Linked DNA regions of Homo sapiens: region 1 is reported to be linked to region 2. Evidence: microRNA targets listed by miRTarBase, many of them from high-throughput screens and not tested one by one. Region 2 holds a microRNA gene; the other region holds the end of a gene's coding sequence.
What was found. The annotated mature microRNA hsa-miR-30a-5p reads UGUAAACAUCCUCGACUGGAAG and lies in region 2 at 1,973-1,994, opposite strand. An mRNA with a match to its seed (bases 2 to 7 or 8) in the 3' UTR can be bound and repressed. Matches are read on the target gene's strand: a 7mer-m8 pairs with bases 2 to 8, a 7mer-A1 pairs with bases 2 to 7 and ends in A, and an 8mer does both.

Region 1: miRTarBase lists GMFB as a target of hsa-miR-30a-5p. The part of its 3' UTR that is shown has no 7-base or 8-base seed match.

The regions. Positions count from the first base shown.
Region 1 is chr14:54,472,035-54,479,136 of GRCh38, forward strand. GMFB (glia maturation factor beta) reads right to left here. Exons shown (of 7, transcript NM_004124.3): 7 at 2,451-6,125. The coding sequence ends at 6,054. Among named protein-coding and RNA genes, the nearest start is that of GMFB, 13 kb to the right of the region's middle.
Region 2 is chr6:71,401,623-71,408,747 of GRCh38, forward strand. MIR30A (microRNA 30a) reads right to left here and starts at 1,999; the gene lies at 1,929-1,999. LINC00472 (long intergenic non-protein coding RNA 472) reads right to left here. Exons shown (of 3, transcript NR_121614.1): 3 at 6,242-7,125. RefSeq lists an enhancer at 467-995.

The DNA.
Region 1 (7,102 bases), not on the chromosome of region 2:
TTGCTATGGTCTGAAGATGTCCTCCAAAATTCATGTGTTGGAAACTTAATCCCCCATGCAACAGTGTTGGACGATGGAGCTTTATGGGAAAAACCTTCATGACCGGACTGATGCCGCCACAGAAAGGACTTTCAAGAGGGGGTTCACCCCTTTCTTGTGAGGATGCACCAAGAAAGCCCTTGCCAGATGCCAGTAGCTTGATCTTAGACTTTCCAGCCTCCAGAACTATGAGAAATAAACTTCTGTTCTTTATACATTACCCAGTGTCAGGTGTTGTTACAGCAGCACAAAACGGACTAAGACAACCGTGCAGTGCATGTAAGAAATGGGCCGAAATGTGAAGAGCCTTAAATTCCAGAGTAAGAGAATCTATACTTAGTAACAGTGACTTTGGAAGTCACACTCTCTCCTCCTGCTTTGTCTGATTTGCATGGTGGCATTTGGATATGCAACCAAGGCGTTCTTTCCTTCCTATAATTAAAAGAGGGCAGCAACCTCAGCAGGGAGCTTTCACACAGCCTAGGGGTAGATCTCAAGTAGAAGATAAGAGGATTATCTGTGAAAACTCCCTAGTGCTCAGCAGTAACATCTTTAATTGGCTCCCCAACAGTTAAAACTACACTATACAAGGATACAATATCCACTCAGGGTGTACCCTCATGCAAATGAGTGTAAAACTGCCTTGGCAAAAATTCTAACAATGAGAAAATTAGGACAGTGAGAGTCCTGATCTAATCGACTCCATCTTGCTTCTGACCTCCAAGCTGTCCTGGTTTATTCCCGGGCATAGGCCGAACTAACTTTGGGAAGAATTTAGTTTATAGTTTAACTTTGAAAGAAAGATGATAACAGCCCTTTCCTGAAACAAGCCTCCCTTCTTGCCTAGGGACCAGTCTGCCTTTGTAGGGACTAATAAATTAGCTACAAGATTAGAAATTATAGTTTAGGAGTCACCGCAGCCAAGGCTGCATGATTCTGGAACCTCCCCAAATTGTTCCTGGGGATAAAATCACTGTTGTAAAACATAAGATCAGTGCTTGAGATATTCTGCAGACCCTGTGTTCTGAAGCACCACAGGGTCGAGCCTGTGATGAGCTGGTAATCTGGCTCAACCAGTTCTGTGATCCCACCTAGGAACAGAAGACACCAAGAAAAACCCACTTGACCCCCTACAATTTCATCTCTGATCCAACCAATCAGCACTCCTCACTTCCCAACCCCCTACCCACCAAATTATCCTTAAAAACTTCAATCCCAGAATTTTGGGGGATACTGATTTGGGTAATAAAACTCAGGTCTTCCATATAGCCAGCTCTGTGTGAATTAAAAATTCTTTTTTTTTGAGACGGAGTCTCGCTGGAGTGCAGTGGCACTATCTTGGCTCACTGCAAGCTCTGCCTCCCGGGTTCACGCCATTCTCCTGCCTCAGCCTCCCGAGTAGCTTGGATTACAGGTGCCTGCCACCATGCCCGGCTAATTTTTTGTATTTTTAATAGAGACGGGGTTTCACTGTGTTAGCCAAGATGGTCTCGATCTCCTGACCTCATGATCCACCCGCCTCAGCCTCCCAAAGTGCTAGGATTACAGGCGTGAGCCACCGCGCCAGGCCTAAAAATTCTTTATTGCAGTTCTCCTATCTTAATAAATTGGCTCTGTCTGGGCAGCAGGCAAGGAGAACCCATTGGGTGGTTACAAGAGTGCGCCCAGGTTCAGAGGCTAAGTGCTTACAAATGCTTCTTGCTGCTGAAAAGTGAAAAGGACAAAAAGACAATAGGTATTATTTAGTGAAGGTGAAAAAATTTAAGAGCTGGCTGTTTGAGTAGGTTAAGTGGCCAAATTTGATAAATAAGGAAGATATAAATGTTCCCATGCTTGGGCCAATTTTCCTTGTGAAATTCTTAAAGACAGGAAGGCATAAACTACTCCTTTCACCATCATAACAAATTGTGACTATTACAACATACACAATCACAAGTACATGGCAAACTCTAAAAACTATGTTATTAGTGATTTGTATTCATTCAGTAGATACCTATTGAACATATACCATATAGTACAGTTGGTAATAAAGGTAGGACGGGTTGTCAATGGGTGTTTAATACATAGTGATAAGCTATATTCAATTAAAAAAACCTTCAATTTGATTTCTTACGAAGTATACAGCTCTCCTAACTTCGAATTCTCCCTTTGAAAGCAAGCGTTCATTGTTTGAAATAGCTCTGTCTGTCCCTACTACTGTTTACTGACATTTTCTACATTTTAGCATCAGACCAAGTTTTAGAAATTTTTATAACTTGATTATCTTCTCCTTCCACCAAGCTGCCAAATGACTTGTTTATTTTGCCTCTCAGTTTGTCCAGATAAAGTTTATGGCTCACACAAATCTAGCCAGGTACATACCAGTAACTCCAAAGGGGGAAAGAGGTGAGTAAAAAAAGAAAAGCTGGAAGTCTTTTAATGTTAACATTTTATTTAAACCAGTACAAGCACCATGCTTAACAAAAGACTGTCCAAAATAAACATGCAATATGAACTAGCAGAGACTGAAACCACAGCTTAAGGAGTTGTGTCAGTTGTTGGTTTTGTTAAACGATGACAGAGAACTGTTAAAATTCACAAGACTAAACCATTAATGTTTCAAGCCTCCTGAATGAGATTATCTTGGACCATCTAAATCAGTGGGAACTGCCCTGGCATGTTAATGATCTCAAACAATATTCAAGTAATTATATTTATATGAATTATAATCCAAAAAGCAATAAAATACAATTTCTATCACAAGTTTACTGTATATGAGCACTGATTTGAAATGTCAAATGGCATAATAAAAACAAATTTCTCAAGAATATTCAGCTTGGGAGCATTGGTTTTAAGCGGTCTAGAAGATTACTACATTCTTCCAGAAATACAAAATAAGATTTGTCCAGAAATGTTTGAAACACATCCTCACAAAAGTTGTAATGGCTCAAACTCTATAAATTCCAGTATTATCAGTCTATTGAACAAATAGGGAAAGCAACCATAGTAAGAATACTTGAATTGATAGAATATGAGTTACTCTCTACTTCCACCAAATATCAGCATTTAAACTCTTATGAAAATATCTATTCATCACTAGTCCACATATGGATTAATGACATTGCTCAGGTTTTAAAAGCAGTCCAAACATTTTTTAAGTACACCTTCCTTAATATCTATATGGGTTGGGGGGAACAGCCAAATTTAATTTGGCAATAAACTCCCCTAACTGGAAATTTTTAGCTAAAGTGTCAGACAAGGATACAGTTTATGGCTACATTTGACTCCTGAAAATAGGAGATAAAAAAGGAGGGAAAAGTGCTGACACACATTTTGCCACACAGATTATTTAGTAATGACAGTAAAAAATTTAGCAACACACACTTAAACAAGAGTATGTTTAACTGCACTAGGCATTTAGTAAACTTTTAGAACTAGACAATTTGAACATTTTAGAAGTCAATTAAACAAAAACAGTCAACCAACTTTTTTCCTAATATAATTGCGTCAATACCAGAACAAAGTGATCACTATTCAAAACTCAGACATTTTGGAATTTCAGCATAGTAACCTGAGAAGTTTTCTTCGTATGTATTTTTGTTGTCATGGAAACCACACTAAATAATACTGTGATTACCAGTTGGTTCTATTTTGACATTAGATGCTATGCAGAACTTATGCAGGGCCAAAAATTTCAAAACTAACACTGACTTAGAAGACCACGAAGGAGGATCCCAGGAAAAAAGTTGCTGCTAAAAAGGACTCAGATTTAAGGCTGAATGGGAATGGTTGTACCAGAAAGATAACGGAATGTAAAAACTGGAATTATGAAATCTGGAGTTATTATTTGGGAAATGGCAGAAAAAAAGACAGTAAATACGAAACATACTTGAAAAGAACAATGCAAAATTTAGTAAGATGAAAGGGAAATCTATATAAATGTTTGAGAACATTTTAGAGCACGGGATTTGTAAATTTCCCCATAGGACAGATGGAATAAAAATGTCCTACTGATCCTCTAACCTCAATCTGTTGTCTTGCCAAAAACATGTTATTAATTAGGAGTCAGACAAGCTCAAAAAAGCATGGTTTATCACAGCTCTTTGCTCCTGTTAAAGACAGTAGCGGAACTAAGAGTGCTAACGTATGGCAGGTCAATATTATCTGACATTATGGAGGACCTCCAAATTTAAAAATAAGCAAAACTAAAACATGCAAGACAAAATAAGGAACTTCATTAAAAAATACATTCTTGCAGCACTAGTTTCTCTTACTGCTGCAAAACAGGTGAAACAAAACCTCATTTCCTTCATTCAAAAACATTAAAAACACTCTCCACTCACTTGGATTACATGTGCATTCCTACAGAATTATATGCATGTTATTCTCCAATATCAAAATACCTGTTTAAAGAATTTTTAAACTTCCTGGGTGAGTTTTCTCTTCTCTCTGGAAATTGGAATAAAGAATCTTTTCCCTCCAAGAACCAAAACAAACACCTACTCTAGCACTTCCTCATCTCCAACTTTCTATTGCTTCCTGACTTCTAAATTAGTGAAGCCAAACAGTGTTGGGAACAGAAGATGTTCTATTCAATATCGCAAAAATTCCAACTATCTTTACTTCTCACAGAAACCTCAAAAATAAAATGCAAAGAACATATGAATGGAAAACATGCCAAAATTTAAATTTTGCTAGTTTTGAGATGACTAAGATATTCTTAATATAAGAATACACTCACCAAGTTTGGTTAGTTTTTAGAGTCTCTAGACCTATTATCAAATTAATGTTCAATGGTTACTTATGTATTTGTTTTTACAAGTATGCCAAATATCAGAATCCTCGCTTTATGCCAAGAGTACCATCATCTAACAAGACTGGTTTAGTTAACTATTCAGGCATCCAGTTCAGAATATCTTCTGACATTTAGGATATAAGATGTGATTGCTATTGAAGTGTTAATGTTATTAACTATGGCCAAAGTTTTAAGATAATTTTTTCCTATGGCACAAAACTAACCACAAGTATACCCAAAATTATAACTCTCGACTGCCATATATTCACCAATGCAAGCAGATAGTTGGAATTTTTAAAATATGAAGTTGATTTTATTACAAATTTCAGATATACACATTAGAAAATTATTTTATTTGGACCCTTTAAAAAAGTATTAATTTCACCAAATGTGGAATACTGGCAGTGTAAAAGTCTTAAACTAACTTTAAAGCTAACAAATCAAAGGCACAGTATTAACACATTTAAAATAATTAGTGTTCACAGGACATTGAGGTGCTTTATAAATAAAGTGTTATTAACCTAGATTCAAAACTGTCTAGAAATGACATAAAAGGAATGAAGCCCTTGATTATTACAACCCACCAATTTCTAAGACTAAGATGCTATAAGGAGAAAAGCTAACAGTCATAATTCTATCATAAAATCTAACTCCCGACCTTAAAAATGAGTGACTGATGAACATAGTTTCTAGACTTGATTAAAAAGATACAGGAAACCAAAGAAGATACAGAATTCATCAATGTACTTGTAATACAGGTTACACTAAATTATTCATGGCTCAATACTGGGTCACTCAAGTCTTTGACCCCAAATGAATTTCAATGATTTGACAAGTGATAATACGCTATTTTCATAAATAAACTGCTAATATCCAGTATTTGTCAAAAGGAGGCAACTGTTGTCTCTCACAATCTAATATATCCACTTTCCAATGGTGTCTGTAAATAGTAACAAATTCCGAACCATAAGTTATAGAAATTAGTCACAAGAGTGCAAAAAGTCCCTGGAGAAAAGTAGTCCACCTAACAATTACCAATATAAGGAAACACTTTACAAAGTTTCATTACTATGAAGATGATTTCCTCTTTGTTCAAATTTTGCACAAATGAAGAATTTTTCTTTACTGCAGGAAACAAACTGTAAGTAACAGTGCATTTTTAGGCATAAATAAGTATTTATGTCTGATTCCAGTATGGTCAGGTTAATACATAAATACTTTAGAAACACAGAAGTTCACATTAGTGAAAAAATCCAAGTTTCTCACGTAACCATTCTTCAGTTAGGTCTTCGGTATTTCTTATTTCAAATACCTTTAAAAAAAAAAAAAACTTGGGTCATACTTTGACACTCCAAAAAAAAAGTCAAATATTTGAATTTTTTAAAATATATTTGAGTATTATACACCAAACTATTTTTGGTTATATATTTGAGTATTAAATACCAAATTCTGCTTCCTTTCATATTGTTCATGACTTAACCTGTGTAAATGAGATATACCTTTTAGGTAGAACTTCACTTCTTTTAAATGCTAAGTACTCAGTTACCAAAGTACAGCAATCAAGACAACATGAAACCAAAACTCTCCCAAAAGCACAAATCTACAAATAGTCTAAAAGAGCAGTTCTGTAAATCTTATCTCCTAGAAGACATCCCAAGTAAACACAACTAAAATCAATCTAGTTAGGAACTGAGGAACATACGCTGGTCTTCCAGAGTCTGAATGTCAAATGGAAATATCAGAGGGAGATGGAGATCAGCCACAAATCTCCAGCAAGAATCTGAATCAGGCCCAGAAAGCATAACGGCTATAGAAAAGCAATGTATTACAGCAGAAAGGATAGGATTTGGAGCCAGATGTGAATCCTAAGTCCTAGACAGAGCTAAATCCTAGCTCTGTCTAAATTTACTGTTATGCAACCCTGAGCAAGTCATTCATCCACTGGGTCTGTTTTCCTATCTACAGAATATCTCACAGGGCTGTTGTAAGGATTCAATGAGATTATCTGTAAAAGTAACTGGTAAACTGTAATGTCTCAACTTCAGCACTGTAGGGCATCCCCAGGATTAGAACAGACTTGAGGCCGTTAACAGCTCCTTCTTAACCACCCAAACCGTTAGAGCAACTCCAGTGTCCCTGTGTTACAAATCAGGAAAAAGTAATGTCTATAAAGCAGTGGTAACAATCACATGGGCTAAGGGGAAACAGCAGAGGGCACTTAAAGGCATTCCAGAGTTGATTATTAAGCACCCAAGGGGAAAATACTGATGCTGTTCTTAAAATAAAACT
Region 2 (7,125 bases):
ACCACAACCTCTCCCTCTCAGGTTCAAGCAATTCTCAGCCACCTCAGTAGCTGGGATTACAGGCACGTGCCACCACACCCAGCTAATTTTTGTATTTTTAATGGAGACAGGGTTTCACCATGTTGTTCAGATTGATCTCAAACTCCTGACCTCAAGTGATCCACCTGCCTCAGCCTCCTAAAGTGCTGGGATTACAGGCGTAAGCCACCGTGCCTGGACTGTTGATGTTACTTTAAAATAGTAGTTTACATTATTACTGTGGAAATGTGGGGCACAAGACATAAGAAATACTAGGTATTAATTTTGAAACTACCCGGAATGGCTTATGGAGGTTTGTATTTGTTGATTTAAAAATAATTAAAAATGCTGTAATTTTTACAAATTAAAAAGTTCCCATAACTAATTATTTACATGAACAAAATGAACAGATAAAAATGAAAAATGGAAAATTTAGGGGCAGTAAGGTAAGGAAGAGGATATAAAATAACATAGGAAGAGAACCTAAAGAAAGTGAAGGTCAAAGATTTAGGAAAAGTTTAACCATTTCTTCAAACCTATAGTCATTTACCTAGGAAATACGGTCGGGTGACCCCAGAAAAACAGCCGAGTTATTTGCTCCAGGGGTTTTCAGCTTACCAATTAAAATAGACCACATTCTCAGTTCCAGACCCAGGGCCTGGCAGAGGCCTCTCCAAGCCCCTTGCATTTCAGTGGCAGTTGATGAACCTCTCATGGCCCAGCATGACTAATAGAGTTTTGATAGCTTTATGTATGAGGGAAACTTAAAGACATTTCTAACACATATTTCTCTCCATCCCAGGTATTAGAAGAAATGCTACTATTTTAAATAGTGGTATGATCATACTGTTTTAGTATCACTTCTTTATCATCATCATCAATGGGTATTAAACAGGGAAAAGAAACTCTTTTACATTAATGGAAACACTATATATTTATAAAATACTGTGTTTTAGAGGACAAAAGATATCACTTTCATATCTTTTTAAAGTGTCTAGTTTCTATATAAGTGTATCCTTAATATTTCTATTATACACTTAAATATTTCTCTTATACACTTAAATATTTCTATTTAAGTGTATAATATTAAAAATATCCGCCATAAGAAAAATACGCATTTACAAAAAAGGAAAATTAGAAATTATGTCCATCACAGAAATCTTCTACAGGATTCTGAATCTTAAAATTGTCTTCATATATTTAGGATAGAATTTGATGTATTTATTATTTTTAAGAGATATGAGTTATTGCATAAAGCTAAGTTAAAAGTTCAACCAAATGGAAACAGTATCCACAAATTCCTAAAATACTATTCTAATCATCTGAAACAAGAATAGGTTTTTCAAATAATAGAGTTAGTTGAATCAGTATTTGTTTGTTTTAGACACTTTATTAAGCTGAGAGCTGCTACTTTATTACTTAAACACTAAGCCTATAAGGAAATAAAAGGGGTTTAATCCAAGTAATGTGAAAATAACTAACCCTTCATCTTACTTTTTTCCCCCAAATAATTGTGGTTTCATTAATGGATTTTTTTTTTGTGAATGGGTCTAAAAAACACCTATTTTGAAACTGCAGAAAGGGCAGGACAAAACAAATCACTTCATAGATTTTTCTGGGAAATATTGCCCTACTACGCTTTTAAAAAAAATAAAAATACTGTAACACATTTCCTCATTTCTCTTACGAATACTTTCTTTTTGATATTGCAAATTCTATGCATACACAGAGCACCTCCTCAATGCCCTGCTGAAGCCCTCTAAAAATGTACAGACATGGTTTTAAAGTGATTTAATTTATACCATTTTAATTCAGCTTTGTAAAAATGTATCAAAGAGATAGCAAGGTATTCAGTTTTAGTAAACAAGATAATTGCTCCTAAAGTAGCCCCTTGAAGTCCGAGGCAGTAGGCAGCTGCAAACATCCGACTGAAAGCCCATCTGTGGCTTCACAGCTTCCAGTCGAGGATGTTTACAGTCGCTCACTGTCAACAGCAATATACCTTCTTTAGCCTTCTGTTGGGTTAACCTGAAGAAGTAATCCCAGCAAGTGTTTCCAAGATGTGCAGGCAACGATTCTGTAAAGTACTGAAGCCTCATTCAAACAGCAATATTCTAGAAAATGTCTCAAATTCAAAACAAATAAGAAGGCTCATGGATGTCTATTATTCATCACCGAGCTTCTAGTTTCTATAAAATTTTGTGATATACTAAAACAACATATATAAATGGTTTCATTCATTATTGTTAGCCACAAGAAGTAAATAGGCAAGTGGCCAGGTTACTTAATATGATTTCAACATGCATTATGTAATTACAATCCTTTAAGCAAAAGTGACCAAACACAGAAACTAAATTATCTTAACAGCGTAAAGCGTACATTTAACATCAAATACTGCAGTTGAGTGAACTTAGACTACCGTGAAAATATAAAAGGTCTACTTGGAAAGTTATAAACTCTGACAAAAAAAAAAAAGACTTACATGCTGCTTTTATAGATCACTTTTGCTCTAAAGTCTGCTCCCAGAGAGGACTTGTACAGTCAGCTGATTTTTGAAAGAGTAAGCAACAATCAGGAGAAAAACAGAAAAGAATAACGAGGTATAACACAGGCATATATCAGTATGTGGATCAAAGTTTCCCACTGGAAAAACACAGAACCTATCACTCACAACAGTGACGCACATTAACTCCAAATTTGAATGTTTTGAATTCCACTCCCATTCTCTTATGAAAATAAATGAGGAAAACTGAAGGTTAAGCTCTATCAGTCACTACTTTCCTGAAGTAATTCAAAACCATTCTGAATCTAGTGAAAGATTAAGTTGATACAGAAAAGTGGGTGTGCCTTTCCCTGAGATTTGTTTTTAGATGAAGTTACCGTAAGGTTCTTAAATTGTGTAAGTCTTAGTAGTTTGTGATCTCAAACCCGAAACAAAAATAAAATCCACACAAAAAGCATCATGTTTACTGAAACTAACAAATATGAAGAACTCCATAAATTACTTTCTCAAAGCAAAGGGTAACTCTATCCCATTAAGGTTAAAAAAGTTAATCTTTGAGTCAGCAGGTGAAAACAAGCTGAATTATGTTGTGGCCTTTTTCTTTATTAACTAAGGACTTTGAACTATTAAAACTTCCTAGGGAACCAGTTTTCTCAATGGGTCAAGTCACACAGGGGAACAAAGCAAACTTTATCAGTGCTGTGCAATTCTACATTCCAGAAATTCTTAGTACTTGGCATTCATATACCACTGCTGACTAGAGCTTGAGTCAATCCACCAAACTCAGCTATGGCTACCAACCTTGTGAACTTCTCACCAAGATACCCACTTCTTTTAAGTTAGCCACGACTAGACAGGCAGAGTACTCTTTAATTAAAATAGATAAATACCAAGGCTTACACCCTGGGGGGACATTGTATATCAGTGACTCTTTACAAAAAGAAAATATTTTTACCACCATAAATTTTTCTCAAAGTGACAGGTCCCCTACTTGCCTTGGAATCTTACCACTTTTAAATAACTGTAAATTATTAAATAACATGTAAAACAGTGACAAGTAAATACTAAGCAAACAACCTCAAATAACAAATAATTACTTAAATAATTCTATTGCCACCCTCTCACTTTGAGAATTGCTGATCCAAGTGGGACCTATACTACTCAGTAACCAAAAAAACAAGCATGTAGTTTAAGTAATAATGAGTCTCAGTTAAACTGGTAAAATTGTCTGGCATCTGACTGGAATAAATCTGCTTTAGCTTTCACATAGACTTCACCTAGCTCATATCTTGCTAAAAGAGGAGCCCACATACATACAGGCAATAAAGTGCTTTTCCATTTATGAAGTATTATAACTAAGATCTTATGGTCTTTAATTATTTTGTTTAGTGAAAATTTGATGTTTATTCATGAAGTTCTGAGCAAAACGCTGTGTTTTCAAAGTTATGTTAAGGAATTCATTGGATCAGCAATTCTCCAAGTGAGAGGGTGGCAACAGAATGACCAGGACAGCTTCTTCTAACCCCACATACCTGATTGCCTCTGCCACATCCACATTGCAATTCTTATTCAGCTGATGGGGAGGCTGCTGGGTATGTAAATTTTGCAAAAGCTATCAAACAATTTTGCTACACCTTCAGGGCAGAGAACCATTGATCTAGAAGGACTGAGCTAAATAAGTTTAAGACTAAAAAATCTTGCCATGACCTGAGAAATATGACCAGTAAATCCATTTAAAAATCGTGAATTAAAAACAAATATGGCAGAATAAGATCCAATTGTGTTCAATACATCAGACTCTGATTTGTCTTATATAACCCTAGAAATGCTTACAAAAAACAATGTACCTACTTTAAAACCATAAGGATACTCTTTAGCCCTGTTAGACAAGGTCTCTAAAGTCTTCCCACCCTAAATTGCAAATCTGGATGTCTGTACCCTGGACAGGTTTTATTATCTTCCTCACATCAGTTTTGTTTTAAGTGCTTGCAGGATTAATTCTTTCTGGTGGAGGGTTTAGAAGCAGCCCGAGATAAAGTGTAAAAATTTTTTTTAGCTACCCTGAACCATTCAATCCTCTTCCACCCTTCTCCTCTCATGTCCACATAACCTTCTCGCTCTCTATCCTTGGAGTGTTTGCAGTGAAACTCTAAGAATGAACATGTTCCATGTCAGCACTGGACCCAGTGCCCAGGCTCTACATCCTCCAATCCTCCATCTCTTTGGGGGCTTAGTGTCCAGGGTAGCTGCATTAATAGTTTTGGCATTCATCTTCTGTCTTGTTCCTTTGGTAAAACACACCTAAAGGCAAGAAATCTAGGTGGTCTTTGATATCTTTTCTAGAAAGCATACATAGAACTGATCTGAAATTGAAGTGACCTAAATGTACAAACAAAATTCTGCCCTTTAAAATTAATCTTTACCTTCTCTGATTCATTCTTTTACACATACTCCACACTCTTTTAGTCCAATTCAAGGGCTTCTAATTCATTATATTTCCTGCTAACGATGATAATGATGAACCTTCCCTTGAATTTCTTTGTAATTAATACAAATACAGACCTACCTACTCCTTGCCTCATGAAAGTGGACGAATGCTGTAAGCATTTACTGGGAGTGATTTCCCATGGATTGTGAAAATGTGAAAGATTGTTAACGAATTCAAATTCTAGGAAGAAGAGTATTATCTTGGATAGTATAGAGTTTACAGTTATAAGGAATAAAATCTCTTCTACTCTAGAAATGAGTATCGCTTAAATATCATTCTCTGATAAAATGGTAATGAAAAATAAATTGAGAATTAAGCAAAAGTGTATGTACTCAAGTTTAAAGCCTTAATTTTAATACAACCTCAACTATGTATTTGTTGTATGACAAATAATGCCTGCACATGATCTCATTTCATCCCTGCCACAGCAAGATAAGGCATCTATAATCATTACCATCACAGATAAGGACAACAGGCTTGGAGAATTGAAATCACATCCGTTACTCACTTTTCTATTCTGATTTTTTTTATTGTAAGCTTTTCTGAATCATTTGTGGAGTACTGGAGGGTGTGGGTTTCAATAAATATGAAGTAGTCAATCATAGTTCAATGAAAATTGCATTTTCTTTTAAAATTGGGCATAAAAAGTTAACAAATCAAAAAATGTTTGAGAGTAGAAACAAATATCCAGATCCTTTGGTGATAAAGCAGTTCATTCAGTTACTCATTCATTCATCATATATATTCACTTGCCAAACTCTCCTCTAAGTGAATACTGACTTACTATCTATGCCGGAGTTCCTCAGACAAGAGATCTCAAAGCCTGTCAGACAGCTTTTTTGGTTGTGGTCACCCTACTATCTTCCTCCTGCACTGGGACCCCCATCTGGCTGGAGCTCCTCCTTCCTACTTTGGCTGGCATTCTTACAAGGGAGGGGGATTCCAGAGGGTCAGGGCATCCCAGCCTCCAGGCTAATAAGGGACTTTCCACCCCACTCCCATCCTGCTCCCTCCCTTCCTTCAGGCAAGTCACTGTCAGCAGTTCCCTGGCACCTCCCTTAGACCACCTGCTGGCTCAGTTCACTCCTCCCCAGGGGCTCCTGCTCCAGGAGACTCCTCTCGGGAAGAGCAACCCTAACCAAGAAACGCCCTTCTATTGAAATAGGTCTTATATCTAAAGGGACATTAGGTAGATTTAAGATGAATTTCATTGTAATAATCACATGGCTGAATTTAGACTCCAAATGGCTGTTTTATTTTTTAAAAAAGATCAAAGCTGTAAGATTAAATTATCTGCATAATAAAAACTGAACATGATTCAGTGTAAAGAGAAATTATTACAGAGGAACATAACTCTATAATATAAACTGTATTTTAAAATATACATATTATATTTATAAATTTCACTATTTAAAAAACACCCATTTCTAATTTAGGTCAACTGTACGTAGTTGATATTTCCATCAATATTTTAAGCAAGTTAAGTGATTTTGGTGACCTTAAAGAAATACTAGAAAGTAATCTGCTACTCATTCACTATTTTAAAATTTAAAAAGCATTTCTAAAGCCAAGGTTAGTTTAGAGTCTTTTATTAATCATTTTGTGTAAAACAACAATTACCACAAAAAAGCTAGATTTCTGACATACTTAGAAACTAACTCATGCTGAAATTATATAATCCTTAGGACAAGTTTACAAAGCTATGCAATGACAAAAAACATTAGCTATCCCATCAAGTTAAAGAAACGCCAAGAACGAAACTGATATAATCATTACCATGTTAAAAATTCATGATTTTTTCTCTCTACTTTTCTGTATTTTACAAATTTTTAATGTGAATACTTTAATACAAATTGTTTTAGAAACAACTGACTCATTTCAGACGTAAGAAATAATATATATTTTATATCTCAAGAGTAATGTAGACAGTACCAAGATATTTCTTATGAACAGTTCTCTATCTAGGTAATCTTTGGAAGGAGAGAACATTGCATATACCTCTTCCCTGAAGGCTATGATTCTGTCTCGATCACTGCTGTACCTACTGGAGCACCCCATAATGTGCTTTTTATACAGTGGATGTTCAGTATATACTGGCTAATTTTTAAGCTGTTGA